5 separate regions of the Homo sapiens genome follow, and all the other regions are linked to region 3. Evidence: fine-mapped expression QTL. A gene starts in region 3. Each other region holds a variant in brackets. All regions are shown on one strand. Distances are between the middles of the regions.

Region 1 (6,124 bases), 29 kb after region 3:
TTAGCTCTGCAGCACAGTGTTCACTCTGAGACTTTGCTGCTTTCCTGGCAGAAACCCCTGTTCCTGGTACCCCATACCTTCCACTTTCCGGGGTGATTTTCTAGTGCTCTAGAGTACATCTTCAGGTAGCTCCCAAAGAAAAGAGAAAGAATGAGAGGTTAACTCAAATGTGTGAAAATATCTTTAGTTCAGTCTTCGAGTTGCTAGTGTGGCCGAAACATACGATGCTGCATAAAATCATTTTCTATTACAGCTTTGAAGGCATTGTTCCATTTCTCCAACACACAGTGAAATTGATCAGAAATATGATGTCAGGGCTCACTCCTCCTCTGTTTTGAGTGACTCGTTTTCCTCTTGGAGAAATTTTAAGATTTTTCTCTTTATTCTCAGTGTCTATAGCTTTGCAAATATCCATCTTGCTTGGCACTTAATAAGTCCTTTCTATTTGAAGACAGGTCTTTTTTCAGCTCTAATGAAAGTCACCTGTTTATTTGATAATTTCTGCCTCCATTCTATCTACTGTTTTTGGAAATCCATTATAATTATGATTATGATTTTAGATTCAGGGGTACATGTGCAGGTTTATTACATGGATATATTTTTTAACAATGTGGTTTGGGCTTCTAGCATACTCATCACTGAAACTGTGAACATGATACCAAATAGGTAAATTTTCAACCCTCACTCCCCCTGCTCTGTCCCTTTTGAAGTCTTCAGGGTCTATAATTTTCATCATTATGTCTATGTATACCCCGTTGTCTAGTTCCCATTTATAAGTGAGAACATGTGGTATTTGATTTCCTGTTTCTGAGTTATTTTACTTAGGATAATGGCCTCTGGCTCCACCCTTAATGTTGCAAAGGACATGATTTTATTCTTTTTTATGGCTGCATAGTATTCCATGCTGTAAACACGCCACATTTTCTTTATCCAGTTGACTTATCCTATCAACTGTTGATGGACCCATAGGTTAATTCCATGACTTTGCTTTTGTGAATAGTGCTGTGATAAACATACAAGTTCAGGTTTCTTTTTTATATAATGATTTAATTTCCTCTGGGTAGATGACCAAAGTGGGGATTTCTGGGTCAAATGATAGTCCTATTTTTAGTTGAGAAATCTCCATATTGTTTCCCATAGAGGTTATGCTAATTTGTGTTCCCACCAACAATGTGTGTTTCCTTTTCTCTGCATTCACATCAACATCTGTTGTTTTTTGACTTTTTAGTAATTGCCTTTCTGATTGGTGTGATATGGCATCTCATTGTGATTTTAATTTGCATCTCTCTGATGATTAGTGATGTTGAGCATTGTTTTTATGTTTATGGGCCACTTGTATGCCTTTTTTTGAGAAATGTCTGTTCCTATCATTTGTCCAGTTTTTAATGGGATTGTTTGTTTTTATCTTGTTGCTTTGTCCAAGTTTCTTACAGATTCTGGTTATTACTTCTTTGTCAGAGACATAGATTGCAAATATTTTCTCCCATTCTGTAGGCTGTGTGTTTACTCAGTTGATTATTTATTTTGCTGTGTAAAAGACACATAGATCAATGAAATAGAATAGAGAATCCAAAAATAAAACCACACGCCTACAACCAACTTATCTTTGACAAAGTCAACAAAAATAAACAATGGGGAAAGAACACCCTATTCAATAAATGGTGCTGGGAAAATTAGCTAGCCGTATGCAGAAGAATGAAACTCCAGCCCTCTTACCATATATAAAAATTAAGATGAATTAGAAACATAAATGCTTGACCTGAAACTATAGAAATCCTAGAAGAAAACCTCGGAAAAACTCTTCTGGACATTGGCCTAGTCAAATAAGTTTTGACTAAGACCCCAAAAGCAAATGCAACAAAAACAAAAATAGGAAATCCCATTATTATTCAAATCCAGAATTTCCTAGGCCTATTTTTTACTCAAATTTTTTCATCACTTTCCTTGTGGCTCTGTGTTTTGTGAGATGTCTTTTACTTTGCTTTCTATTTTACTCATTTTTAAACTTAAAAGCATAAACTTAATGTCTAAAAACATAAACTTTATGTTCTCTGTTCTATTTTCATAGACTTGCTATTGTTTAATGGCTGAAATATCCTTTTGATTCTTGCTAAGTATCAGAGCAAAAGCTTTTATTCAGTTACATTATGTGCTCTGCACTATCTGTTTCCTCCAGGGCCCATTTTAATCTTTATTTTAATCTTTCTTCTTCATGCTGTGGTCTCTTTATATACACCTATCTACTTAAGTTGAAGAAAGCAAGCCTGAGATAATGGGTATGAATTATGTATGCAGGATTCCCCAGCCTAAGCTTCTCCCTTGATGGGAAATACTGATTGGGAACCTAATGTGAACATGGGGACTGTTTGCTTGGCTTCCTCTGATGGCAAGAAGACAGGTAGCAAGCTATTGAGTTATAGTCCCTGAAGATTCCAAAAACTAAGAGGAATTTACTTTCAGAACCAACATTATCTACATTGGAAGCCTCAACTTTCACTTATTTTGTTCAGTCTCTCAATTAGACTCGCTAATGGGGGCTATTTTTTATTAATTAATTAATTTATTTATTTTGAGACAGCTTCACTCTGTTGCCCAGGCTGAAGTGCAGTGGCATGATCTTGGCTCACTGCAA[C/A]CTTCACCTTCAGAGTTCAAGTGATTCTTGTGCCTCAGCCTCCAGAGTAGCTGGGGACTATTGAGGATGGAAGGCAAACCACTTGTGCTCAGTGAAGCTAATCTGCTATTGACACAGGAAAATTTCCTTGACCCCTTTGCAGGCCTTGTGACAGGGGTGCCTCGCTTACTCAGCCCGCCACAGGTGAGTGGGTGCAGGAGCCACAATGAGTGCTTTTGGGTGCTGGCAGGAGCAAAACTTTGTGCAGCTCTGTGGCAGCGCCTAGAGGGGTACCTGCAATCCCTGAAGCCCCAGAAGGTGTGTGTTACAGTGCTCTTTTAGCTTTGCCATCCACAGATGGGTTAAGTGTTAAACAGCTCGGTGAGCCCTCTGCCTTTTCACAAGGGCAGAGGGTCAGTGTGACAGCCTTCAGTGTCTGCACCTGTGGCACCTGAGCTCTTGTTTAGCATCCAGGAGAATCCAGGTCACACAAACAAATTGAAGGGTGATGAATACAAAGTATTTTATTGCCAATGAACGTGGCTCTCAGCAGGAAGAGGAGCTGGAAGGGAGATGGAGTGGGAAGGTGATCTTCCCCCAGAGTCCGGCTGTCCCGGCCAGACTCCTCTCTGAAGCAACGTCATCAAGCCATCTCTCTGAAGTCAAGCTGCTTCTCTCTGATGTCAAACCACAGTCTCCAATGTCCAGCTGCTTCTCCTCTTCTCCCCTTCTCTGCCCTTTGGCAGTCGAGTCAGGAGTTTTATGGGTATAGGACGGGGAGCAGGGCAGGCCATGGTGGTTTTGGAAAAGGCAACATTTGAGTGGGAAAAACAGAAATACATGTTCTCACTTTGGGCCATGGTTCCAGGCTTGGGGGTGGGGCTTTGCCAGGGAGCCTGCCCTTTCCTGCCTAGAATTTCTCTGCCTCCTGTTCCTATCACTATTGCAAAGTCTCCCATTGATACAGTGCCTTAGACATCAAGAATTTCATTTCTCTTACATAACAGTCCAGTTCTGCTCCATGAAGTCATTCAGGGACTTGAGGTCCTCTTATCTTGTTTCTACACCATCTCCTAGAGCAGCACTTCTCAAATGTTAATGTGCATAGGAATCACCTGGAGGTCTTATTAAACTGCAGATTCTAATTCAGTTGGTCTATGGAGGTGCCAGGTATTCTGCATCTTTAATGAGCAGGAGCTGCTGCTGATGCAGATGCTGCCAACTGGAGAAGAATTTAAAAACCAGGCACTAGCATTGTTCTCATCCATACCATTGAATTTCCATTAAATTCTGTATTCCAACCAGGTGCAGTGGCTCACACCTGTAATCCCAGCAACTCAGGAGACTGAGGCAGGAGAATCACTTAAGCCTAGGAGATCTAGACCAGCCTGGGCAACATAGTGAGACCTCATCTCTAAAAAATTTTTTTTTTAATTAGGCAGGGGTGGTGGTGTGTGCCTGTAGTCCTAGTCACTTGGTGGGAGGAGGAGGGAGGATCACTTGAGCCCAGGAGTTCATAGTTACAGCGAGCTATGATTGCACTTCTGCATTCCAGCCTGGGCAGCAGAACAAGACCCCATGTCTATAAAATAATAGTAATAATGAACAAAATTCTGTATTCCAGCACAAGAGATGGTGAAGGAGTGAGAAGGCCCAAGCCTGAAAGCAACATCTTCATTTTCACTCCCCTGCCACTGGCGAACTTATAGTAACAGGCACACTAACCCAGCTATCAGTCTACCACTGTGGAGAAAAGAAAGACTGAATGTTGACAAACAACTGGCAGTCTCCACTATGTAGTGAGACTGAACTGGAAGTTTTAAATTTTTTTGATTTTTTAAAAATAAGTTGTCTTCATTAAATATTAAGTAAGAAAGCATTTATGTGTGTAAGATATAAAGAAAAATAGTAGAATGAAAACTGATATATTTATCACCTGAGTTTAACAAAAAGGATTACTCCCACTTTCTTTGAAGTGCCTTCTGAAGCCATCTTCACTTCTCTTCACTTTGATTTCTGTTCCTCCCACATGCAAAATACATTCACACTCTCCCAAGATTCCCAAGGGTCTCATCCCATTATAGCATTATCTCAAAGTCCACAAATTCATTCAAATCATCTAACCCAGCTGAGAATGAGTCCCCTGGGTATAATCCGTCCACTGACCTGTGAACTAAAGAGACAAGTCGTCTGGCTCCAACACACTGAAAATAATATGATGGGACTTGTGCAGGATAATTATAGACAATTATAGCACAAATAGTGAAAAAATGGGAGGTAAAAAGCAACCACTAGCTTATAAAATTCTGAAATAGAGCAAAGCAAATGTCGATTTTTTTTTTCAAGGCCTGTGATGTGGTTGGGATGTGTGTCCACTCCAAATCTCATGTCGAAATGCAATCCCCCATGTTGGAGGTGGGACCTGGTGGGAGGTGTTGTATCCTGGGGGTGGTTCCCTTCAGCACCCCCTTGGTGATGAGTGAGTTCTCACTCTATTCGTTCACATGAAAGCTGGTTGTTTAAAAAAGCCTGGCATGGCTCTTGCTCCCTCTTTTGCCGTATGATACCCCCCTGCTCCCCCTTTGCTCTCCTCCATGATTGTAAGCATCCTGAGGCCCTCACTAAAAGCAGATGCCAGCACCACATTTCCTGTAAAGCTTGCGGAACTGTGAGCCAAAAAAGCCTCTTTTCTTTATAAATTACCCAGTCTCAGGTATTCTTTTATAGCCACACTAATGGACTAATATCGCCTGAGAACAATCATTTGTAGTGTTTGGCCCCACGCCCCAGTTTCTTGGCTCTGCCTTCTTGGTGATTGACTCCACCCTCTAGGCTCTTAACCCTGCCCTCTAAGCACTTGGCTCTACCCCTTAGGCTCTGTGCACACCGTCTCACTCCTTCTCCATCCCTTGTGCTGTAATACAAATTTTATTTTTATTTTTATAGAGATGGGGTCTCATTCTGTCACCCAGGCTGGAATGCAGTGGCGCAATCACGGCTCCACCCTCTGAATTATCCTTAATTATTCATAAAATGTAGCAGGTGTTTGCAGTTGAGTTATTTATCAGCCTGCTTCCTGCTAGCAGAATTTGGGGGGATCCCACATTCCCTTTCATTTTATATTTTCTTTTTTCCTTTTTGTCTAAGATGGTAGTGTTTCTGCTGAAGCAATTTTCTCAAGAACATTGTGGATCCTGAATTTATTTCACAGGGATTCGCTCCGTTAGACAAAACCCACACTCCTAATATTTTTTTTATGTGAGCCCTTCTTTACCTTTGGCTTCTGCTGAGATAGCTGAGGGGCAGCCCTGTAAGTTTGCTAGAGGCCCTCTGTGTTGATTAAGAGGATCTGAGGGGGCACACCCTTCATCTCTTGATGGGGCCTCTTGTGTGATCTCTTGATATTTCTGTGGTTTTAGAAAAAGATGTGTTGTCAATCACACACCCAGCCTTTTCTCTACACCACACTTTTAGCAGTCTTTTCTGACACTTAGCACCTAATGCCATCTGGAA
Region 2 (6,124 bases), 150 kb after region 3:
TTGGGAGGGGAGCCAGAGGGGAGGGTGTCCATGGATTTGCCTTGGGAGGAAGAGCTATGAGGAAGTCTTCATGAATTTGTCCCTGAATGGCAGCCAAAGCAGGAAGCCTCCTAAGTTTGGAATGGGGGTCAGTGGAGCTCAGGATCTATATCCCGCAGAGCATATGGAGGCCCAAATCACTGTCTCCTCCTCTGGCTCAGAGTTTCCCTATTTCAGTCTGCACCTGCATCTTACATCCCACAACGAAGTGGAGCCTCTGTAGCAGTGGCAGACTACAGGTCTGTATTTACATGGGTCCGTATTTCATCTGCATCGTGACACCAGCCTCCACCACTTTCTGTGCCACCCAGTTCTGGGAGGGAAGAGATTTCATGGTTTTGATGGACTCTCTTAGAGCTATTTACATGCATGAAACAATTAGGAAAACAAAAATAAGGGAGCGTGATGATTAAGTTTTGATGTTAATTTGACTGGAATAAGGAATACCTAGAAATCTGGTAAAGCGTTTTTTTTCTGAGTGTGTCTGTGAAGGTGTTTCCAAAGGAGATCGGCATGTGAGTCTGAGAGGACTAAGTGGGGAAGATCCACCCTCAATGTGGGCAGGCACCATCTAGTCTACTGGGGACCTGCAGAAAACAAAAACAGAAAGGGCAAATAGGTTAATCTCTCTACTAGAGTTGGGATATATTGTCCCTCTCCTGTCCTTGGACAACTTCAGGCTCTCTGATCTTTGGACTCCACGAGTTACACCAATGACCCCTGGGTTCTCAGGCCTTTGGCCTTGGAATGAGAGTTACACCATCATCCTCTGGCTCTGATGGCATCACTCCTGGCTCTGATGCCTTTGGACTTGTACTGAGCTGTACTACCAGAATTCCCAGGTCTCCAGCTTGCAGACAACCTGTCCTGGGACTTCTCAGCCTCAATAATCATTTGAGCCAATTCCCCTAATAAATCCTCTCCCATCTACCTATCTATATCTACATCCATATCTAATCTATGTCTATATCCATCTCCTATTTGTTCTGTCTCTCTAGAGAATCCTGACTAATACAGAGAGTAACAAAGCATTTTTCTCATGTTTTATCTTTCATCTCAGAATCTAATTAATCACTTCCTTAATTACTTGAATGAGCCACTGGAGGTTTGGGGTCATGATTCCTGCTCTATTTATATCACCTTGTTTTTGATGAGATGACCCTACCTCTGAATACTGAGTCTAAACATACCAATAAAAAGATGAGAGACGGCCGGGCACGGTGGCTCACACCTGTAATCCCAACACTTTGGGAGGCCAGGGCGGGTGGATCACTTGAGGTCAGGAGTTCAAAATTGGCTTGGCCAACATCTAATTTAATAGAGATGACATCTAATTTAGTAGAGACGAGTGAAACCTCGTCTCTACTAAAAATACAAAAATTAGCCAGGCATGGTGGCAGGCGCCTATAATCCCAGCTACTTGGGAGGCTAAGGCAGGAGAACCACTTGAACCCAGGATGCAGAGGTTGCAGTGAGCCGAGATTTTTGCACCACTGCACTCGAGCCTGGGTGACAGAGCTTCATCTCAAAAAAAAAAAAAAAAAAAAAAAAAAAAAAAGATGAGAGACCTGTTCCAGGCCCTGTAGTTTTCACATTCTCTCTGAATTCATTATTCTTAAAACACTGTCTATTATCCACCCCTAGTCAATCAAAAATAAATAAAAATCAAAAAGAAAACAAGGAACAGGCTTCTCTTGTAATTGGAAGAGAGCTGTGAGCAAGACGAATGATCTGTGGGGACCTCCACTACGAATTACAGCAGAAGGCTTGCAATTACTTAGAGAAAGAAACTGCATGTTTATAATGTTTGAGTAGAAAGAAGCATCTCAGTACTCTTCACACTTAGTATTCAGCACAGTGATATTGCAGTGCTGGGCCAGTGGGGCAAAGGCCAGCCTTTCTGGAATTGTAACACTCTAAAGTGTCTCTGTACACTGTGAGACACGACCAGGTTCATCAGTCTGGGATCCCCAGGACCTCCAAGCATAACAAACGTGGCAGCAAGTCTCAGGGGCAGAGCCCCAGGCTGCACTTGCCAAGAAGCAGCTTCTGGGCTGCAAAGTCTGTGATCTGAGCAGAGAGAAGGTACAGAAGGAGAAGCTCTGGGTAGAGAGGTGTGATGCTGAACAAGGCCCCCTGCCTGCCCCATCTTTTAGCCTTCCATGCCCCTCTCCACTTCTCAGGTTTCCCTGAGGCTTCTCCCTCCTACTAATCTCCACAACAAAAACCATATTCCAACTCTAGCGACTGAGTAACAATAATGAGATCTATATTATTATGATCATGACTCTTCTTCTTGCTTGTTAACTGCTTAAGCAAACATGCTTTACTAGAAGGAAATCTAACACTCTTCTCTTGAGTCTTTCTCCCCTCTTCCCTCAAATTGCCCAAGCACCCTGGAGGTTTGGTCCAAGCAAAGTTGACCAAAGTGGGAGGAGAAGTGGTGTCTTTGGGGCCATTTGTGGCCTCTCATCAGCACCACATAATGTTGCTGACGAATACTGGCCCCTAGCCACAAGACCCACACTTGTCTGCTCTGAGCACAGCCTTGCTGCTCCACATTCCTGACATTCCTGCAGGGGGCTATGAAATAGCATAACAGGGCACCAAGTGATGCTCTCTTAGTTCACGTGTCTACGTGTAGTCACAGAAACATAACACTGAGCCCAGGGGCAGGTTCCAAAAGATCATTAACGCCTCCCAAGTGCTATTCTGTACACAAGCCAACCCTTTCCATGACCGCTGAAGCCCTTGTCTTCAGCCTGGGCCATCAGTATGTGTTTTAACATATAGTGTATTAGTTAAAAATTCAAAGTAGAGTAAGGCCAACAGATCACAAGATGACTATTGTTGAAAAGAGAAGTTGTTACTCAAGGTTCCCAGGAGGAGAGGCCACCTGGGGAAGTACCAGGGCTGGTCAGAGGCAGAGGGGGCAGGGGACTGTGGGTAAAAGACTTTACTGTGGTTTCTGCAGGAAGGAACAGGTAAGGCAGGGCACATGGGCTTATGATTGGCTGGTTTGAATAATTTCAGAGGGCTATGGGCTGTAGCAGCTGACCCTAGTTGTCTGGGGTGACTAGGGTAGGTGGAGAGTGTCCCAGAGTATGAGAACCC[A/G]TGAGAAAAAAATATGGCTAGGGGTATGAGCTCTGGTTTGGTTGATTTGCATTTGAAAAGCATGCTCATGGGAAAATGACTGATGCTCTCTAGAGATCAGCAAACCCTGGGACGGCAGTCTCCCCAAGGTCAGCAAGGCCCCAGATGTCAAAGCACCAGCACACAGACCATAAAATGCATGGTTACCATACCATGTTGATGTTTTCTTTACTTAAGATTGTTTTATACCTGGGGCCTTATTTTCTCTTCCTGTCACTGGACACAGTTCAGGCCTTCCCTGTCCACTATCTCCCTGACATTGAGACTCAAAACTCCGGGCTTGGCCAGGCTCAGTGGCTCACACCTGTAATCCCAGCACTTTGGGAGGCCAAGGCTGGTGGATCACAAGGTCAAGAGATCAAGACCATCCTGGCCAACATGGTGAAACCCCGTCTCTACTAAAAATACAAAAATTAGCTGGGTGTGGTGGCGCACGCCTGTAGTCCTAGCTACTCGGAGGGCTGAGACAGGAGAATCACTTGAACTTGGGAGGTGGAGGTTGCGGTGAGCCGAGATTGTGCCACTGCACTCCAGCCTGGTGACAGAGCAAGACTCTGTCTCAAAAAAATAAGTAAATAAACAGGGCTTGAGTCTATTCCATTTTACAAAGGTCTTGGATTCCTTGATCTCTTAAAGAATCATCTCTCATACTAAAAGGTAAACTAGATTTTGCTAATGTACTTGAGAAATTAAAGCTCCTATATATACCTTTACTGCAGTCCAAATAAAAAAATATATAATTTTTTATTTTTTGAGCAACTATCAAGCACTGCCCCAGCACATTCATTTCTCTTTATAGTATTGGGCCAGACACAGATCTAAACCATTCCTTTCACACAGCTATGCCAGACCAGCATTTAAAAAATAAACGCTGCTACATACCAAGGGAAAATATTTCGTTAATTTTACTTCTACTTTAAAAAGCATCATTTTGTGGTACATTGTCTAATGTTATCTATCTTTACAAAAACCATGAGATACGTAATATCATTATCCAAACTTTACAGAAAACAAAACAAAACAAAACTGAGCTTAGAGAGGTAAAGTTACTGACAAAAGGCCGCCTAGCAGTTGGTTAGTATAACAATCAGTGCAAAGACCCAAGTTTTTATCCAACCCAGTCTTCTTTTCACTAATCCACTGCTCAGAAAACACAAATAGGGCAAAAACAGTTGTTTGCAGGGAACATATTTCTGATCCACTCTCTTTTACCTCAATGGATTAAAAAGGCATAATAATTAGAACAACTCATTGAAGCATTGTCCACAATGGAGAAGATTTGGAATCAATCTAAGTGTCCATCAATGGATAAAATGTATAAAGAAAATATGGTATATACATACAGTGTAATATTATTCAGCCCTTTAGAAGAAGAAATCCTGTCATTTATGACAACATGGATGAACTTGAAGGACAGAATGTTAAGTGAAATAAGCCAGGCACAGAAAGACAGATACTGCATAATCTCACTTATATAGAGAATCTAAAAAAGTAGAACTCATAGAAGCAGAGAAGAGAATGGTGATTGCCAGGGGCTAGCATGGGGTGCAGGGGAGAGGTGTGATTAGAGAGATATTGGTCAAAGGGTTCAGAGTTTTAGTTATGCAGGTTAAATACATTTTGGACATCTAATGTACAGCATGGTGACTGTAGTTAGTTAACAATACTGTATTGTATACTCAAAATTTGCTAAAAGAGTAGATCTTAAGTGTCCTCACCCCTACACACACACATAAAAAAATAGCAACTATGTGAGGGTGAATATGTTAATTAGCTTGCTTGTGGTGATCATTTCACAATGTATGCATGTATCCAAACCTCATGTTGTACACCATAGATATAAGCAATTTTATTTATCTATTATGCCTCAATAAATCTGGAAACTTAATTAATTAGCTAATTAATTGATTTTAAAATTAGTTGGAAGAATTTTGAAGCCAGAGAGATCTGGGTTCTGATCCCAGCTCTGCCACTTGCTCATTACATGACTTTGAGTTGCTTTCTCTGAGCCTCATTTTCCTTATCTATAAAACGAAGATGATAATAATAATGTCGTCCTATTAGCACTGCTGGGAAGATACATCTCAAAAGGCTCTGGCACAAAGTGGACATGCCACAATAATGCAATATTATTATTATATACAGAGGGTGGATATAACTTCACAGAAGTTCATTTCATTCATTCAACAAAAGTTTATTGAACATCAACTATGTGTGAGGAACAAGGAAAGAATTTCTAAATTAAAGATAGACAGTTAGGAAGGTGGAGACTGACAAACAAATAAATGCAATAAAGTGTCCTCAGTTGCAGGCCAGAGTGGTGGCTACACGAGAGAGCCCATTTGTCCCTGAGAGTGTCAGGAAACGTTCCACAGAAGAGGTATGTGGCTTCCAACAGGAGGGCAGGAGGGCAGGAATTAGCTTATAAAATGCCTCCCTTAATTTGATATCTCATTGTTTAAAAGATCAAGTTGAGAGCTAAAGTGAATTTTCAAATGGCAAAACTAGATTGAAAGCAGGCAAATTCACTGGGTTGTCCCAAAACCACCTAAGGGCCACATGAATTATCACTGCTTCAACTCGTTGTAGGAAACATGCATTTTCAACCAATTTATTTTTTTATCTTGCTCCAAAGACAACATTAAAACTCATAAAAACTAATAAGACAGGCCAAACACGGTGGCTCATGCCTGTAATCCCAGCACTTTGGGAGGCCGAGGCGGGCGGATCACGAGGTCAGGAGATCGAGACCATCCTGGCTAACAGGGTGAAACCCTGTCTCTGCTAAAAATACAAAAAATTAGCCGGGCATGGTGGCGGGCGCCAGTAGTCCCAGCTACTCGGGAGGCTGAGGCAGGAGAATGGCGTGAACCTGGAAGGCAGAGCTTGCAGTGAGCCAAGATTGCGCCACTGCACTCCAGTCTGGGCAACA
Region 3 (6,124 bases):
GTTTTGCATGAATACAGACTTTCTTAGGAACTACAAAGCAATCTGAATACCAATAATAAGACGTCTATTCCCACCCCACCCCTTTCTTAAACAGAAACTATCCCTTTTTCTAATTCTCCTCTGGGAAGAATATTTCATCTATTCAAGATTATAAACTAATTTTTAACATTTAATTAGACAATATGATGTTAAGACTATACATGAGTCACGAAAAATCCCACCCAGATAAAAGCAAACCTTTTTCCTCAAAACTGTTCTTATTCTTGTTCTATCCTCACAATATCATTAGTAAGAAAACACCACACGCTATAAGCATCCTTCGAAATGTTTACCCAACATTGTGACCCAGTTGTAAACTTTCTGTAGCCCCATGGAAACACTTACTTCTGGGAAGAATGAATGACTCTCAATATAGCACAAATATACTCCAAAGGAAAGGCATGGTGACTCCTAAATGATCTGAGGAACAGAGGACTAGGTAAAGACAATGGAGGCAGAGTTATGGAAAGAAAAATTAAATTGTATTGGCAAGGGAACAGGCATTCTTTGGAAAGTGAGATAACAGGTCTGTCTTGTCTAGCGCTACATTTAACAGTTTTTTAGATCTCACAATACAAGCTAGAATTCCACTTCTGTTTATTTCAGGGTAGATTTACATCAGTTTAGTAATTCACCCCAGACCTCTGAATAATTGTTTCATGTGATCTACATGAATAGTGTATTATTACTCATTACCAAGTAATTACCAAGATAGTCAACAAGATATAGCCCAAAGGGAATTATACACAATAATTTGGGTGGTGGAGGGGGGTGGGGAGGAAGGAAGAGTTGGGAGTCACACAAAGGGATGTGATTCACCTGTAAAGGTTGAGGGTGGGGGGTTACAAAGTGGTCCTGGCAGAGAAATCACAAGGCCCAGGTTCCAGGACGACACTGGTAACTAGGAAGTGTGTGACCTTGTGCATGACGAGATGGATTATTTCAAAGATTGGATCTCATAGATCAAAAGAAGGGACTGTGCTGAACGCTCTTTCAGATTCCTCCCACTGTCCAAATACCAATTGATATCTCCACTCTGGGTATGTGCCTTACTAGGTCCGGCTGGGGAAATTCGGCCTTCATTCATCTGATCTGGCACAGTGACCGAGCCCTGGGGCATGCGCCCGGCCTCATCTTTCACCTGAGGAGGCTCCTCCATGGCCGGGCGCCCCGCGGGTGAGTCGTACGGGGACGTGGCGCTTCGAAGTTTATGGGGAGCCTCGCACACCTCAAGTTGAAGGAACTGCTGAATCAGGGTGCCCCAATTAAGTCAGATCTTAGGCAATCCTATGGTTCCTTTACTCTCCCTCACCCTTCCTCCTACTCTGAAAAGAAACCGGATCGGCCTGTCCGCCCAGAGGTCACCTGGGAAGAGCAGAGTGATGTCACTCGGCTACCCCCAAAACTGCCTCCAAGGTACAAAAGAGCTGGAATATCTGTGCATGGTCCAAAGGGACGGCACACTCCGGAAGGTGACCCTTTAGAAGGTATTATTACCAGACTGCAGCCTCGGCCTCTGGGATGGGTGCGGGAGGAAGGTGGTGAGTTTCCATCATCCCGCTGCCTTGCCGCACGGCGGCCAGGTGCTGCTACACATTCAAACCCGACAGTTTGGCTTAGTGGGTTGCGAAAAAAGAACTCAAGGGGAGGAAGCACCTGCAGCCACCCAGGCCGAAGTTAGGGACCACTTCCCCAGAGTTACGGACGGCAACAACCAAGTCACGTCTGGAGTCACCTCTCTGGCTTCCGGCTCCGCAGGGCTTGCCCTCCCGAGTCACCCAGGCAGAGGCCGGGGACGCCAGTAAGGGGAAGGTCGGAGGGTCGGGAGGACAGTGAGGGGAGGCGGGCTGGAGGAGCCGGGATGGCGAAAGGTGGGGGGTGGGGTGGGAGGGTTAGAGGGGCCCGGGGCGCCGGGGCCGGGGTGTGTGGGTTGTGGGCGAGGTGGCCGGGGCGGCCAGGGGGCGCGCAGGATACCCTACCTGTGGTGGAGAGCACGGTGCTGGCGAAGAAGAGCGCGGAGGTGAAGTCCCAGTTCCAGTTGCCCGAGGCGTTGCTGAGCACCGACACGCCGTAGTTGCTGGCCTCCAGCACCCGGCCCAGGAACTGCTCCAGCTGCTGCTCAGACAGGCACTCGTGCTCCTCCAAGAAGCGTCGCTTCAGCTTGCGCAGCTCCTGGCGCAGCAGGTCCTCATAGGGCAGCTCCACCGAGGAGAAGACCACTGCGCCGAAGACCAGGTAGAGCAAGTAGCCCAGCACCAGGAAGCCGAAGCACCAGGCCGAGCGGTGCCGCTCCACCAGGCGCACGCACGAGCTGCCGGCCAGGGACTGCAGCATCTTCTCCACCGCCGCCGCCAAGGCCAACGCCGCAGACCGGCCGGAGCGCGGCCCGCCGCCTCTTCTGGCCCCGCCGCCCCCGCCCCCGCCCGGGCCTGGCTCCCGCCCGCCGCCCGCTCCCCCGCGCGCCCGCCCGCCCCGCTCCTCCGGGCAGCGCCGTCTTCCTGCGATTGGCTCTCTCGGGCGATGTTTTTCTTCCTTCTTTTCCTGTTTCCTTGCAATATAAAAAGCCCAGATGATGTGGCGCTGACGTGGTTGCCGGCTCAGGTAACCCGAGAGTCAGCGGAGACCGCGCGCAAACTTGGCCAGAGCGCCTGGGCTGGGCTGCCGGGGCCCGGGACGCACCGCCTTCTGCGCACTCCAGAGGTGGGGCGGGCGCTCGGTGGCGCCCAGACCCCGACCCGACAGCCACCAGCTCCTCCCGCTCCCTCCCTTCCTGGGTCCAGTAGCCAAACTCTAGCTGACCGCGCGCGGCGTGTGCGTGTGTGTGTGTGTGTGTTCGCGCGCGTGTAGTGTGGGCCGCTTCTGGTCAATGCGCTGGCCGTCCAAGCCCCCTGTCCAAGCTACTCTTGTTTCCCACTTATTTTCTCCCAATCAAAGCCAGTATTACAAAACAGCAAGCGCTGAAGTACTTTCCTTCTTTGTCTTATTGGTCGAAGGATTGAGCAATCTGGTGCCAGTAATGACGGTGAAAATACCAGAACATCAGAGTTGGAAGGCTCCTTGAATCAGTCTCCTCTCTCCCACCCATCCCCCTCACAAAAAGGACTTGAGGGAAAAGGAGAGTCTCAGAGAAGTCCTATTTCTGAGTTCGAATTTTCTAAAACATGACCTTAGGTTTTTTGGTGAAAAAACATCCCAAATGTGTCAACTGCCAGAAGAAACTGAGCTTTCCCAACTGTCACTTCTTTTTAAAGTGACAAAAATGTGGGCGAGGGTCAGCGAGCCGCCTGCTTGTGGATGAAAATAAAAATTGGTACACCCTTTCTGGAAAGGCAATTTAGCGACACGTCTCAAGAACCTTGAAAGGGTTTATTTGTTCTGATTCAGTGATATGTCCTAAGAAAAAACAATCAGAGAGGCACTTACTTACAAAGACTGGTCATAGACGGTATCTATATATACATACATGTAGTTGTATAATATAGTGCATACACATGTGGGACACACACACACACACACACACACACACGGTATAGATGAAATAATGAAGACTCAGAACAATCTAAATATTCCAAAATAGAGAATGGTTAAATAAGTTATGGCATCTCTACAGCATGGACACCATATAGACATTAAACACATTAAAGTTGTGTCTAAAGACTATTGAAGCAAAACTGTGTAGAATCTCAAATATGTAAAATATTTGTATTTTGTTACAAAATAAAATGACATCTGCATTATTAATCAACTGCATAGGAATAAAACTATCTCCTTGCAGTTGTCTTTGGGTAATAGTAGAGTATATAGATGACTTTCCTTTCTTGTACCTTTTAATATTTTTCAAATTTTCTACAGTGGATATATATTATTTTTGTAATCAGGAAAAACATTTAAAATACACAAAACTGAATTGTACAATTAATCATTCCAACACCTAGCTGAACATTTGCCTACTTTACTGAAGTTCTCTAAACAAGTCATATTTTGTATTTTCATAGAAACTTGTGCAAATGTCTAACATATATATCAGTGATTTTTCACTTTTAGTCAATAGCCTTACCTCCTACGTTACTCAAAAGATTGAAGCCAGCCCTCCACTTTACTTCTCTGTACTTCAAAATTTACTCATCGGTAATCCATTTCTTCCCTTTGCTCTTACCCCTAAGGAAAAAATGTACCTCCTTATTTTCAAGGTGAAAGGAAGCACTTACCACTCTCAGTCCTTCCGCCTCTGGGAACCCTTCCCCATCAGCAAGTGCCCTACTCTTTTAGAACTTGAATTCCTCCTTCTCCCTCAAGTCTCCATCCTACAATGTCCTTCCCTGTCCTGCTCTGTAACCCTTGCTTGCCCTATCCTATCCTTGATCTTTGCCTATTTGCCCTGTTCAGAGACCTCTTCATTCATGAGGCTACCCCCGGCCGTAGCAGACCCTCAGAATTCTCCTCCTGCCTGTCATGATCATTTTTCTCCCTATGTCTCTGCTCACCTGATTCCTTCTGCTTGGACAGTTCCTCCTCCATCTCCATCTGTAACACAGTTTATATCCTTCAGGACCTGGCTCACTCATGAAACCTGTGATTCCCCAACAGGATGTGAGTTCCTCTTCCCAAGACATACAACCCTTTGAATGCCAGATTGTGTGGGGTACTTGTGATGAACTGCAGGTGCAGGTGTGGTTATATCATCACACTCAAATATACATACATGTATTGTGGGAAAAAGAGTTTCTGGAGTGCCAGTTGAGTTGTTCTCCCCTGTGTGAGACACCCATGGGGAGCCATGGGTGACCTCTGAGGAGAAAAGTCTCCTTATTGCCTTCATGTCTTTATGCCCTGAGAGCATAACTGCTCGGGGGCATTCCACAGGCTGCTCAGGGAGATAACACGCCCTGGAAGCAGTGGAGTATAATCAAACATCTTGGCTCCTCCTGAAACCCGCTCCCACCCCTTTCAGTCCCAATAAGTTAAAGATCTTAAGTAGTTTAGACACACGCAATCTTAAGTAGTTTAGACACACGCCTTTGCTCAAGGAAATTCACAGAGACCACCACTGCTGTACATCTTATTGAATGACTCACAAGTTCTCCTTCACTGATTAATCCTTTTCCTCATCCCTTCCTCCCCCTCCCATCTGCCCTAAGAACAAAGAGCTTGTAAAACAATAAATTAGTTGGAGCCCAAGAGCTCTGGGCCATGAGCAAGCCTCCTACACAACGGTCCCCTGGACCCACCTTTTAAATGCTTATTCTGCCTCTTTCTAACTCCTGTGTCTCCGCTGGACTCGGGGTACCCGCCGGTTGGTGTGGGGCTGGTTCCCCCAACATGTATATGGCAGCTTTGAAATATGGTTGCAAATTCTTTGACAGTCCCTCACCAAAGGGTAGGGTTTCTGTCCCCTATCCTTGAAACTTGTGACTACTTCAACTGACAGAGTACATAAGAGATGATACTAGGTAATTTCCAAGGTTAGATGATAAAAGACCAGCAGCCTCCAACTTTGTTCACTGGAACAATCCCCTCTTGGAGCCCTGAGCCATCACATAAGATGTCTGATTAACTTGAGGCTGTCATGCTGGAGAGGCCACATGTAGGTGTTTCAAGGGACAGCCCAGTGAGCCCAGCTTCCTTATCATTCTCGCCAAGACACCAGATAGATGAGTGTAGCCATCTTCAACTCTCAAACCAGGGCATCCACCTGCTGAATACCACTGGGTGTCTTACCTCTGTCTATCTACCCAGGAACAGAACTCCCAGCTGAGTTCTGCCTGAATCCTGAGATATCATCAGATGGCTGTCTTAAGCCATCGAGTTTTTGGCTAGCTTGTTATACAATAATAGATAACTGGAACAACATGCATCTTGACTACATTGAATTTTAAAAATTATTATTAGAAGTTTTCTTCAGACAAATTTGCCATTTTCTCCATAGTTCACTTCTCTGGCTGAGACTCTGCCCCAGCTCTACATCACAACTAGGCCAAGGATACCAAATATTTTTAAATCATATTATCCTCAGACTACAAGTAGAAACTGGAAATATCATGGAAGTGGTCTGATGGGGGCATAGATCTCATCCTGCAGGACGAGG
Region 4 (6,124 bases), 45 kb before region 3:
CAACAAGGAATGTACATCTTCCGTTATTTTGCTTATGTTATAAAAAGAAGTTTGCCAGAGAGAGAAGGCTCAAGGGAGCTCTAAATAGACTGAAGAGAAATGCTGACAGAATGAAAGTGGGCTACAGTCAATACACGCGACCAAGGAGGCACAGATGGTAAGAGGTCACAGAGGTAACAAGTCATGGCAGGTGCAAGTGGTCTAGGATTTTCTTGGGATCACTTTTTACTGCCTCATTCATTTAATACTTTTCTAAACACTTATTGTTGTTTCTACTCATTCATGAATCGTTTCTTGCTAACAAGCAAAGACAGAGAGGCAATGGCATTCCTAGTTGGGACATGGCATCAATTCTTTACCTTATAGTGGACATCTGAGAGAGGGACTAAATTAATACACCACACTTAAAAGCTAGGGGAGCCAGCAAACAACTCAAGTTCCACAGATGAGAACCTTGCACTTTTTGCAATGAAGTTTCCACTAAAAATGGCAGCGCAGTGAAAGAACGATTAGAAATAATAACTTAGGCAAGGGGAACTCATCATGCATCCATCAGTCTGAGGAGGTAGGTTCTGGAAAGGAGGGAAACGGGCTCAAAACACTCAATAAAAACAGCCACACCTAGCTGCTTGCCATATGTGTATAAGCTGTAGTGTATGCAGAATAATTGTGAACCTTCATAACAATTTCCAAATCCTAGAGTTGTTATTTCTACTCTATAAATAAAAAGACTGAGTATTTGAGAGTTTAGACAATTTGCTCAAAGTCATACAAATAACAAGTTGAGCCCATAATCTTTGCACTCTACCAATCCAGATATATTATATGATACAAAGGACACGGATGCATCAAAAGTCAACTCAAGTCCTAACATTATTTCTTAGGTGCTCTCAGTGAGAGGGTGGTGTTACTCGCTACCTGCAAAAGAAGAACAATGATGTCTTTCCTGTGGTTCCGTGAAGCTGATTCTAAGATAGTGAGACTGAAATGAGAGGACAGGAGAGCGCAAAAACAACGTTTAGTAATGAACAAAGGACCGTGCAACTCACACACAGAACTGGTTGGTGGAAGGTGGAGCCTAGGGTAACTCTACAGATATCAGAAGGTGGGTCAGCAAAACATCTATCAAGGGTCCGAGAACGTAGGCATAACCTACATGCCTTTCATATTCTTGAAATAGAGTTTGGAGCCACATAGATGAACTTCTGTGGTAAATAGTAAGGTCATCAATGAAGACTGTCCCTAAATTGTGACAAACAAACATGAAACATAACAAATTAGTGGTGATCTTCAAAAGTAGAGTTTCTGTGGCAATAATTAATATCAGTGATATAAGCATAAACTAAATTCCAATAAAATACTTATCTTCCTATTTAACTATTTAATGTAAACGATAACTCTCAAGGAATCCCTGTTTATAAATAAATATCTAATTGCAGAGATACCAGCTAAGTAAGATAGGATGTCCAACAGCCCAAAGAATGAGTTATATTCTAAAGACATTAACGTAAATATCAGGTAAAAGTAGAAATCAAAATTGTACATTATGATTATAAATTACTCAATATATAAGTATATTTTCATTGTAAAATATTCAAACAACACTGATGCAGCAAATGTCCCCTTGACTACTCATGTCCTCTTCAATTCTAGTTCTCTCCAGAGGTTACTGTTAGGAGTTTTCTTTTAACAGTATATCCTGGAGATGGCTCCATTCTGAAACATGAAAATGGCACTCATCTGGCTGCAGTGTGCAGTACTGTGTCTTCCAGGTGAGAACCAGCCCCTTGCCCTGATGTAGCTTCCTTTTCCTAAGAAGGTTCTCTTATCATCCTTGGCCTTTCTTCTGGACTTCTCATGTTTGTTTGTGTTTATTGTGTTTGTTTACTTAAATAGGAGCTTGCCGGCAGTGTAGTCAATGTACCACATAACGACGTTTCAGTCAATAATGGGCCACATATATGACAGTGGTCCCATCAGACTATACCAGACCTGAAAAACTCCCATCCCCTAGCAATGTCGTAGCCATGGTAACATCATAAGGCGATGCATTACCCAAGTGTCTGTGGTGATGCTGGTGTAAACAAACCTCCTGCGCTGCTATTTGCATAAAAGTATAGCACATACGATTATAGTGTATGTATATATATTGACAATGATAATAAATGACTGTTACTGGTTTATATAGTTACAATTTTTTACTAATTTTTATCATTATTTTAGATTGTATTCCTTCTACAGGACTTGCCTGAAGCTGGTTTACATTTGACATTTTTTTTAATAAAAAATATTTAAAATAAAAAAAATGTCAAATGTAAACCAGCTTCAGGAAAGTCCTTCAGGAGGAATTCAGAAGAAAGCATTGTTATCATAGGAAATGACAGCTCCATGCGTGTTACTGCCCCTGAAGACCTTCCAGTGGGACAGATGTGCGGGTGGAAGATCCTGACCCTGTGTAGGCCTAGGCTAGTGTGTGTGTTCGTGTCTTAGTTTTTAACAAAAAAAATCTAAAAAGTAAAAAAAAACTGAAAAATTTAAAAATAAAGCTTACCAAATAAGAATATAAAGGAAATACTTTTTCAGCAGTATAACATGTTCGTGTTTTAAGTTAAACGTTATCAC[A/G]AAAGAATCAAAATTAAAAACATTAAAAAGTTTATAAAGTAAACAAGTGACAAAAGCTAAGATTAATATAATAAATTAAAGAAAGAAAATAAATTGAAGAAAGAAAACAATTTTAAATAACTGAACTTAGCCTAAGTGTCCAGTGTCTAGAAAGTCTACAGTAGTGAACAGTAATCTCCGAGGCCATCACATTCACTCACCACTTACTCACTCACCCAGAGCAACTTCAATTCCTGCAAGCCCCATTCATGCTAAGTGTCTCATACAGGTGTCCCATTTTAAAAAATCTTTTATACTGTATTTTTACTGTATCATTTCTAGGTTTGGATATATTTAGATCTCCAAATACCATGTGTTACACTTGCCTACAGTCTTCAGTACGGTAACATGATATACAAGTTTGTAACCTAGAGCAATATGCTATAGCATTCAGCTTTGTACACTCTACGTTGTTCACACAATGACAAAAACACCTAAGGATGCATTTCTCAGAACGTATCCCTGTCGTTAGGTGACGCTTGACTGTAGTCTCATGTAGTCTCATTTTCTCTCTTGGCATCTAGGAGTTAGCATACAGTCTCTTATATAAGGAACTGTTTTTGTTAGATGATTCTTGCTTAATATGTAGGTTTTTCCTTTTAATCTACCTGCTTATTAATTATGTGTCCAAAATTATGCAATCAAAAAAATCGAATTTTCTAATTTTAAAGTAAGCAATTTGGCCAAATTAAAATTTCTATTATACATGCTTTCTTTTCTAAGCATTAAACATTTTCAGGGTTCATTCTCTATGATTTAAAAACACATATAATTATTTATTTTGCCCCTCAAACTAGTAAATGAATGATATCCAACTCTAATGGATCCCTGTTGTCCCATTTCTGTATGGTTTCTTTTCCCTAACACTGTTTACAATTTAACTTTGAAATGTGTTGAACCTTTCTTAGCTTGAGAATTTAAATTATGATTATTTGTCCTTATTTTTTCATATTTTTAGAACTGTTTTTCCATCCATTTTAAAAATACGAATCCCTGCCATGTCTTTTCACACCACCCTCTGCATACTCTCACAAATGAAGATCATCTCATCAGGCCTTGCTTCCTAAAACTGAAATTTCAAAAGAAACACGTATGTTACATACAATTATTCAAATTCTTTATACTCCTTTTCTCCATTCTCTCTAAGCTGGTGAGTACCTGGTTGACAGTCCAGCTTTTGATCAGTCACCTTCTGCTGTAGGAGGCTAAGTTTGTCAAAGTGATAAAAAAAAAAATTAACACTTTTAAGTTATAACTTAGTAAAATTTGCAGTAAGATATTAAATGCTATAGTAGGACAGCATAGGTAACAGACCAGGCTGTCTTTCTCTCTCTCTCTCTTTCTTTCTTTATTTCTCTTTCTTTCTTTTCTTTCTCTTTCTTTCTTTTCTTTCGTCTTTCCTTTTTCTTTTTTCTTTCTTTTCTTTTCTTTCTTTTTCTCTCTTTCTTTCTTTCTTATTTCTTTGGCTAATCATCATAATTACACAGTTCCTTATGAAAACAAATTCTGTAATAATCTCTTTATCATCTCAGATCCCTGCAGACAATATGGCTTGGCTTGTTCAACGGTACCATCTACTGCACACTGTGATTTGATGTCTTGCTAGGTTACTGCGGGCAGATCATGGTAGCACAGGAACATGACCCACTACTGGATATGGGTAATAACCACATATCCAGCTTTTACCACATATCCAATTTTAATACAGCTTTCCCCCAATTCCAATCAGTCACATTTCGAAAACATAAGAATCCTACCTAAGGCTTTTCCATCCCAAAATTTACTGACACTGCCTTGGCTGCGGGGGTTGTGGATGAAGGGGGACAAAAAGCGATGAGAAAGCAGCTCTCGTGAAAAGGTGGATTTGTCCCCCTCTCACCAAGCTAAATTAAACTCATCCTCACTCATCCTCACTGCCCATCCTCCCAGACACAAACCAAATGGGCTTCTTACTCAGTACTGGCCATCTCTCGGGCAAGATTTCCCTTTAATATTTTCTTACTAAATTACATGAACAGATTAATTAGAAAAGACTTAAAAAACAACAAGCTATCTAATTCTCTGACAGAGTATATTTACAATGTGTTATGACTAGGACCAAAAAAAGTAAATAAAAGAGACTTAAAACGAAGCTTTGGGCTGGGCATGGTGACTCACACCTGTAATCCCAGCACTTTGGGAGACTGAGGTGAGAGGATTGCTTGAGGCCAGGAGCTCAAGATCACCCTAGTCAACATAGTGAGCTCTGTCTATACAAAAACTAAATAAATTAGCTGGGCATGGTGGCATGTGCCAGTAGTCCCAGCTATTCGGGAGGCTGAGGTGGGAGGATCAATTGAGGCTGGGAGGTTGAGGCTGCAGTGAGCCATGATCATGCACCACTGCACTCCAGCCTAGACGACGAGAGACTCTGTCCCAAATTAAATAAATAAATAATAAAGAAATAAATAATTGAAGCTTTGTCACCCTTGTGTGAAAGCTGATCACATGAAATGAGTCATTCTTGTCATACCCAACAAAGAATCAATAAGCCAAGGGGAAAAAGCACTCAGGGTGAAGAACATTGCTCCAAAAAACATAATTTTCTGCAGGCCTGGCAGCTGACACTGCCTGCAGTAACCTGAAACCAGTTTTGTCTAACGACTACTGAGACGACCTGCTGCAACTCTCAGACTGGGTTTACGCACCACCCTCACTTATCAGTTGAAGCCTGCCAGCTCCTCAAAACCTTACTGGTGCCAATGAAACTTCTCAAAGAGCAATATGCAACATTTCTCCTTTTTATAAAACCTCTAACCTTCTCTTTGTTCTTCAGAGAGAGCATTTTCAGTTCACACCGGAGACTCTCTCTTCCAGGTTTGTAAACCAGTATTGCCAGTGAAACTCTCTTTTCTGTTATCTAGCCATCCTGATGGTCCTTTGGATGACACTTGTTTAATCCTGTAACCCATTTGAATGCAGAGGTGTCAACATTACAATTACTGATGGTCTCACAAAACTGTCGTTTCCTTCAGCATCCTTTCCTAGGGACTTGAAATCCACAAAAGTAGAATGCTTTACGATTAACTGAAAATGATGAGAAGCAACCACCAAGCATAAGTTAAAGAGCTGTCCAGTATGCCCTTGGCATTGGAGCCGTTTTTTTTTTTTCCCACTTTACCTCAGTTGCTCCTCATCCAAGGGTATCTTAGTCTGTTCAAGCTGCTACAAAAGAATACCACAGGCTTATAAACAACAGAAATGTATTTCTCACAGTTTTAGTGGCTGGGAAGTCTCTGATCAAGGCACCAGCAGATTCAGTGTCTGGTGAGGGCTGCTTCCTCATAGACTTCTCACTCTAATCTCACAAGGCAGAAGGAGGAAGGAGTCCCTCTTATGTCTCTTTTATAAAGGCACGAGTCTCATTCACGAGGCCTCCACCCTCATAACCTAATCACCTCCCAAAGGCTCTACCTCCTGATAC
Region 5 (6,124 bases), 62 kb before region 3:
GGATTTCACTGGGTCTGAGTGGCATCTTGCAACTGGACTTTTTACATATTATGTATGAAGGGAAATAAATACACAGGATGCTCTCATTTTACAACTTGGGTGAAAAGCTATTTCATAATCACTCGGCCAGATATTCTGCGTAACACTCATAAAATACTTCTCCTCTTTTTACCTTAGATATAGCCATGGAACCTTGAAATCTACAGACGTAAGTAACACAGATGATCAGCTGGAAAGAAAACAAATGTGAGTGCAGTGATTAGTCTCTTTAAGACCCTCCATAGTGACCGGAGAAGTGTTCCAGGTGGCACAGCTAGGTTTCCACATTGACCCACTGTGCTTGTCGTCCTTCTCCAGCCAGTGCCCCTTTTGGAGGGAGTCACCAACAGAAATGTGTGCTGTCAATGTCTGGCTATGCCCATGCCCTGGGCTCTGCTTCACTCTCCCAAGACAGGGGTCCCTGGGGCAGCCTGATCTCCTTTTCAGTTCCCCAAAATCTGAGGGAAAAATGATAGACTGTGACAAAAAGGCAATCTATTATTTTACTTTTTAATAGAGTTCTGCCAGCTCTAGCATGTGCCATAAATTACAGTGACCTTTAAAATCTCGCTTGGTCACTGCTGAATGGGTGAGAATAGGCTTGGTTCCAGTTTTTAAGGTCACACTGTCCTAATTTGCAATGCATCACACCATGTACTAAGTTGGTAACAACCGCTTAGAGGAAAGCTTTCGTTATGCAAGGGAGAACATCAAAAAGGGCACTTATCCCAAATGAATGCAGCAATTTAAACCAAAGATGTTTACGCAGGGCAAGAACAAAGTAAGGCAGGAGTTTGGGGTCAACTAGGCTGATGTCTTTGAACACCCATGAGCTCACTGGAAGGTCTGAATATCTGGTGGCCGATGGGCTCGGGGTGTCTCGTCATTGCTTAGAAGCGAAAATTAAATGCTGAGTTATGTGGGTGAAAATATGTATGTTTGCAATTACACATGGAATGTAAACCAAAGATACAATTCTAAGCCCCCTAACCACTAAATGGATCCCTCCTCTCAGCCAAGGGCATTCCAAAGTTAACCTGAAACACTAGTTCAGGCTGTGATGGAAATGAGTGGGTGGACATGCCTCCATGGAAGGAATTCAGACACAACTGACCAGCATGAACATTCAAACAGAGACCTTAAGTCTAACAAAACAGACTCTTTGTAGCAATAAGATGCTGATATGACAGCAGGCCCTGAAAGCAATAGAAATACTTTACCCCAAAATATATTTCTTTGATATATTTTGAAATGGCCCTGCAAAGCTGTCTCTTGTGGGGAAAATCTACATTTTATAGAGAATCCTCTTCTCTTTCTGGGTATTTTTTCTGATCTAGGAGAGAATTAACTAAGTCTGGCACCTTTTTAAGTCTAATAGGAAACCATTTACAAGCTATTCTCTCGGAAGCCTGCTACCTGGAGACTTTATCTGCAAAATAAGAACCTTGGTCTCCTTCACCCCTTATTTTAAACCAAACACACCCTCCTATTGACTCTGGGTCTTTAGATAAACTCTTTCAACTCATTACCAATCAGAAAAATCTTTGAATTCACCTATGACCTGGGAGCCCGCCCATCTTGAGTTGTCCTCCCTTTCCAGACCAAACGAATGTATATCTTACATGTATTGGTTGATGTCTTATGTCTCCCTAAAACATATAAAAGCAAGCTGCAGCCCAACCACCTTGGACACATGTCATCAGGACCTCCTGAGGCTGTGTCACAGGCACGTCCTTAACCTTGACAAAATAAACTTCTGCATTGATTGAACCTGTGTCAGATACTTTTTGGCTTACAGTCATTTATATAAATAATAAAACCAAGAGGATGAAAAAGACTCTCAAAACTAAGCTAAATTCTTCACCTAAAATAAATAATATAGACATTTATTTATGCAAGATTTTAGCAGTAGTGTCATCTTCATATGTAGACAGCAAGTTACTTCATGGTGGAAGATAAGATGTTTAGCCTGAGGGAATTTTCTAAGCAAAGAGAATTACCACTTAAAAAGGAAACATCTTAAAGCAAATTTTAACCATTTTGCATGGAAATACTATTCACTTACTTTATGTCTGTAAACATCATTTAATGTTGTCATGAAAATTGTGTTAATAACATTTCATTATGAAAATAATGAAAATCTTATCACAGTAGTGAAATCATTATGAAAATAATGAAAATCCATTTTTTTTCCGCAAGTTAAGTATTCATACTTTGTAATCATACTGACCCGAGTATGTTCTGTCATTGGCTTAAAATGTGGGTTTTCCACATTGGTAAAAATTTGCTAGGCCACCTGTGTGTGGTTTGTGGCTCTGAGTACACTGTGGCGCCCCCTTTGAGAGCAGCATGTTAGCTGCCATGAG[G/T]CTCCAGACTTAGTCAAAAATTGCTTTCAGTAAGACAGGTGGTCATGTCTCTAGAGGGTGTGACCATTTCTCCTTCTCAGTATAAAATAGAGTGGTCAGACTGTTCTACGCAGATGCTGAGTGCCACAGGATGCTAAGGGAATGGTGCAAGTGCTGTGGATGCTTTTACAGAAACTGAGAGACTGCTTACTATTTTAAGGCCGCCTAAGTGATTGCACAGTAATTATTGCCAAGTTGCATATGGAGACTTTTAAATTCTTTAATTGTGTCACCACAAATTGTAACGTCATTTATGTTGACACAAAATTTGGGTAGCAATTGTTAAAATAATTGAGAGGCCATTAGGCTGAGATGGCCTCAGAGCCCTTTGTTTCCTAGGTGAACAAATCCAGCCAAGCCCAATTCAACATAAACAGTTAAACAAACAAACAAAAAACCTTTACCAGTCAGAAACCACCAACAAGCCCAGGGATTTTCCAGTAGATCATATTCAATTAAGACAAATACGTAGCTGTAGCCAATCAAGCAATTGCTTTGCTTTGCTTGCATGTTCCGCCTATAAAACCCCACACCTCTTGCTGCTACAGTGAAATTCTCTGAACCTCTTCAGGCTTTGAATGCTGTCCAGTTCATGAATCCTTTAATTTCAAATAAACTCTGTTGAATTAATTTGTCTTAAATTTGCCTTTTAATACAACTCTCTCCTTTATTTTCTGTGGGTTGGAAAAACAGAGTAATAATTTTGTTAGAACTGTGTGCAAAGTAAGTATGTGTATGCCATGAGTGAAGCAAAGAGAGGGCTTACTTCTTTTTAAATGTGCTTTCCTACCAGGGCATGAAAAATACTTTAAAAAGCATTTTTATTTACTTCTGGGTCCTTTACTGCACTCCAAAAAGCTGAGTTTGCCTGACAGTACATATTAGATAAGAGAGATGTTAGGAAAATTGACTTCAGCAATTTTACATCTTGCCTCACACAAAAGGCTTTGATGCACCAAATTTCCACAATGTAAGACCCTTGCAAAATAAAAAAAAAAGTCACAATAGGAAAATCTCAAACATGCTACAGAGACAGATTTAAAAAGTTACTTGGCATAGTCAAATAAAGTAAATGGTATACTGTCTCATTTCAATTTCAACTATAAGTTGCTAAGAAACTTTTGTTTCTAAATTTGCCATATATACATTGCTGAAACTACATCCTAAAGGGACTGCCTTCCTAAATTGAGGATATCAGTATTTATCACAGCTCTTCCCAGCATGGAGGCTTTAACAACAACAAATACCAAAATAAATGTATTATGCCAGACAATCAGGAGGCTCTGCTCTCACTGAATTCTGAATAAGAGACAGATAATACTGTTCTAATTCTCCAACATGTGCTTCTGCCAATTTAAAACTTTTCTTCTTTGAAACAAATAGCTGTTTTTAGTAAGAGGTCAGTGTACTTTAAAGAGTTAAGAAGGTTTTGCATTGCCTATTTCCGTTATCTTGAGGTCTCCAGATTTGTAAATATCTCCTCATTCATTTTCCAAAAGGCCCATAAAGCTGGTTTGGAGAAAGTATGAGTGTGATTTTTTTCTCAGGTAAAAAAAAAAGTGACCCCATGTCAGTAATCTAAACATTACTCGATTTTTTTTGAAGTCAGACCAAATTTCTGTCTTCAGAAAATGTTTCTTTTTTCTCCCACTTGTCTTCTTCAACTTTTGAACAAATACTTTCAAAATATCTTGGTGGCATGACTACTATAGAAAGAAACCAGTGTCATAAATGGAGTGATCTGGGCTAAACTTTATCTGTCCTGGGAATCTTTTACATGATTCATTTAGAGACTACTCCCACCCCTTGGTCTCTCTTCCCTTGGATTTCTGAGAGCTTAGGAACTCCCACTCTGAGATACTCTGTGTTCTCTCCTCACGTGGAGTGTATCTGCTACTTTGAAATCAACATCCCTACCAGACACGTGTCACATTTAAGTTCACGCACAGGACCATGTCCTGGAATGATAAGGCTTTCTGCTGCTGTTCTACCCTGAGGGCATTCCGCAGGCATCTTAGGAACTCAATCTTGAAGGCTCAAGCTAAGCAAGTGAGTTCAGCTTGTACTCATCACCCAGAATTCTCTAGTAGTCACTTTTACCTCCAACTTCCCACTCTCTCGCCTCCAACTAAAGGGTTCCCAAGGTCAGTTCTGGCTTAGCTACACTGTTCATCTTCCACCTCCTTGTCATGCCTGCAGCAAGCCGAATTTCTGTTCTCTGAGAGGCTGACCCAGAGCTCCTCCTGGGTGACCAAGCTCGCTTCTCCCTGGGGACCAAAGGGCAGCATCATCGGCCAAAGACAAAAAGAAACCCTGGGGAAGACATCCTCCCTTACTTTCCTGCCTGCTAGGGTGGGGGCCGAGGCAAAACTTGCTCCTACTTTTCTACTTTGCCCTTCACATTAACAACAATCTGAAGGGCATTAAGGTTTAATGTGTTCTCTGCGGATTCAAACGAGTTCCTAAAATTAAGTACTACACTCTATTACTTATTAATCACATCTGATTCAGAAGTTTTTCTTCACGTACTTCCTCATTTTCTGGACTTTGAACTTCCCTCTCATGTTAGAGCCAAGCAGCTGTAGCAAACTAGCCATTATTTTTTCCTGCATTGCATAAAATAGAATAACACTCTCCAAGTGTAATCCAGCTTCTGTGATTTATATTGATGAGCATCTCAGGACTCTGCTCCACACCAAGGCTTGTGACCATCGGAAATGTTGCAGATCCAGTTATGGCAGGATGCATGCCTCTATTCTCCAAGGATTCTCTATTCTACCCTTAACCAATGATCTGGCCTCATGACAGCAGTCTTCTATTGCAGGGACATGGTCAGCAGGGAGGAAATATGCTTACGGGGCAGCACACTTGGATTCCTCTAAAAATCATATACTATCCCTCTAAAATCACCTATATTTTTCCATCTCCCTGTCCTCTAATCAGTAAGATATTTAAGCATGTGAACCCCTATTGAGATATTGGACAATCACTCTGTAATTCTTTCTGTGTGCATGGTAGTTAATAAATGTGTATGCCTTTTCTCATTAATCTGCCTTTTTGTGAGTTGATTTTTCAGCAAATCTTCCGAAGGGTAAGGGGATGCTTTCCCTTTGCCCTGCAGTTGGTAATAATTTACTCATGGCAGCACATGGTACAGAAGGTAGAAGGTTACTGAGCGAGTGACCCACTGTCAGGAGACTGGCCCGCGATCAAAGTGCTTGGCTGGCTCATCAGAGGGCGCTGATTTTGCACTGATTTTTACCAGCCCCTCAACCACCAACTCCTGGGCAGCCACCCATGGGAGGTAAGGCTCCATTGCGGGGGTCAGTGGACATTCATTATCACACAGGGGCTTTCTCATTTTCTTTTCTAAAATCCTTAATATAATAGTATCCTGTGTACGTCATCTAAATGTGACCTTTATGTTTTCTATGAAGGACTATATATATATATATACGTATATATATATATATATATACACACATATATATATATATACATATGTATATATATACATACATATATATATGTATATACACACACATATGTATATATATTCTACATAGAGGCACACTTCTGATATATGAAAGCATAAGATTACAACCAGCTGTGATTTTTATTTATTTTAGCTTCTAAATTTAAAATTCTCAGATTAATGTAACATAATCTGTTCATTTAGG

Alleles and levels. Positions count from the first base shown, and alleles are read on the strand shown. Sizes are in standard deviations (SD) of each study's normalised expression. Not every link is listed here.
As copies of A replace G in region 2, the expression in spleen of the gene that starts at base 2,439 in region 3 goes down (moderate effect, 0.44 SD a copy in GTEx).
In carriers of allele G in region 4, the expression in sigmoid colon of the gene that starts at base 2,439 in region 3 tends to be lower than with A alone (small effect, 0.34 SD a copy in GTEx).
In carriers of allele T in region 5, the expression in atrial appendage of the gene that starts at base 2,439 in region 3 tends to be higher than with G alone (small effect, 0.21 SD a copy in GTEx).

What was found. PIP is the estimated chance that this variant, and not a neighbour inherited with it, causes the effect. A credible set is the group of variants that fine-mapping cannot tell apart.
Region 1: its variant is the best candidate, but not a certain one, in a credible set for the expression of KCNK1 in thyroid (GTEx, PIP 0.57).
Region 2: its variant is the best candidate, but not a certain one, in a credible set for the expression of KCNK1 in spleen (GTEx, PIP 0.63).
Region 4: its variant is the best candidate, but not a certain one, in a credible set for the expression of KCNK1 in sigmoid colon (GTEx, PIP 0.63).
Region 5: its variant is the best candidate, but not a certain one, in a credible set for the expression of KCNK1 in atrial appendage (GTEx, PIP 0.51).

Annotation. Positions count from the first base shown.
Region 1 is chr1:233,581,257-233,587,380 of GRCh38, reverse strand. No RefSeq gene overlaps it. Among named protein-coding and RNA genes, the nearest start is that of KCNK1, 30 kb to the left of the region's middle. The variant C/A (reference allele first, on the strand shown) is at 2,633.
Region 2 is chr1:233,456,689-233,462,812 of GRCh38, reverse strand. No RefSeq gene overlaps it. Among named protein-coding and RNA genes, the nearest start is that of MAP3K21, 130 kb to the right of the region's middle. The variant A/G (reference allele first, on the strand shown) is at 3,154.
Region 3 is chr1:233,610,421-233,616,544 of GRCh38, reverse strand. It overlaps KCNK1 (potassium two pore domain channel subfamily K member 1), which reads right to left and starts at 2,439. Exons shown (of 3, transcript NM_002245.4): 1 at 2,019-2,439. The coding sequence starts at 2,373. RefSeq lists enhancers at 1,413-1,472, 2,661-3,313 and silencers at 1,943-2,002, 2,343-2,412, 2,773-2,872.
Region 4 is chr1:233,655,592-233,661,715 of GRCh38, reverse strand. The region is part of intron 1 of KCNK1 (potassium two pore domain channel subfamily K member 1); the gene reads right to left. Among named protein-coding and RNA genes, the nearest start is that of MIR4427, 35 kb to the right of the region's middle. The variant A/G (reference allele first, on the strand shown) is at 2,623.
Region 5 is chr1:233,672,432-233,678,555 of GRCh38, reverse strand. It overlaps KCNK1 (potassium two pore domain channel subfamily K member 1), which reads right to left. Exons shown (of 3, transcript NM_002245.4): 3 at 6,042-6,124. Among named protein-coding and RNA genes, the nearest start is that of MIR4427, 51 kb to the right of the region's middle. RefSeq lists an enhancer at 471-1,093. The variant G/T (reference allele first, on the strand shown) is at 2,406.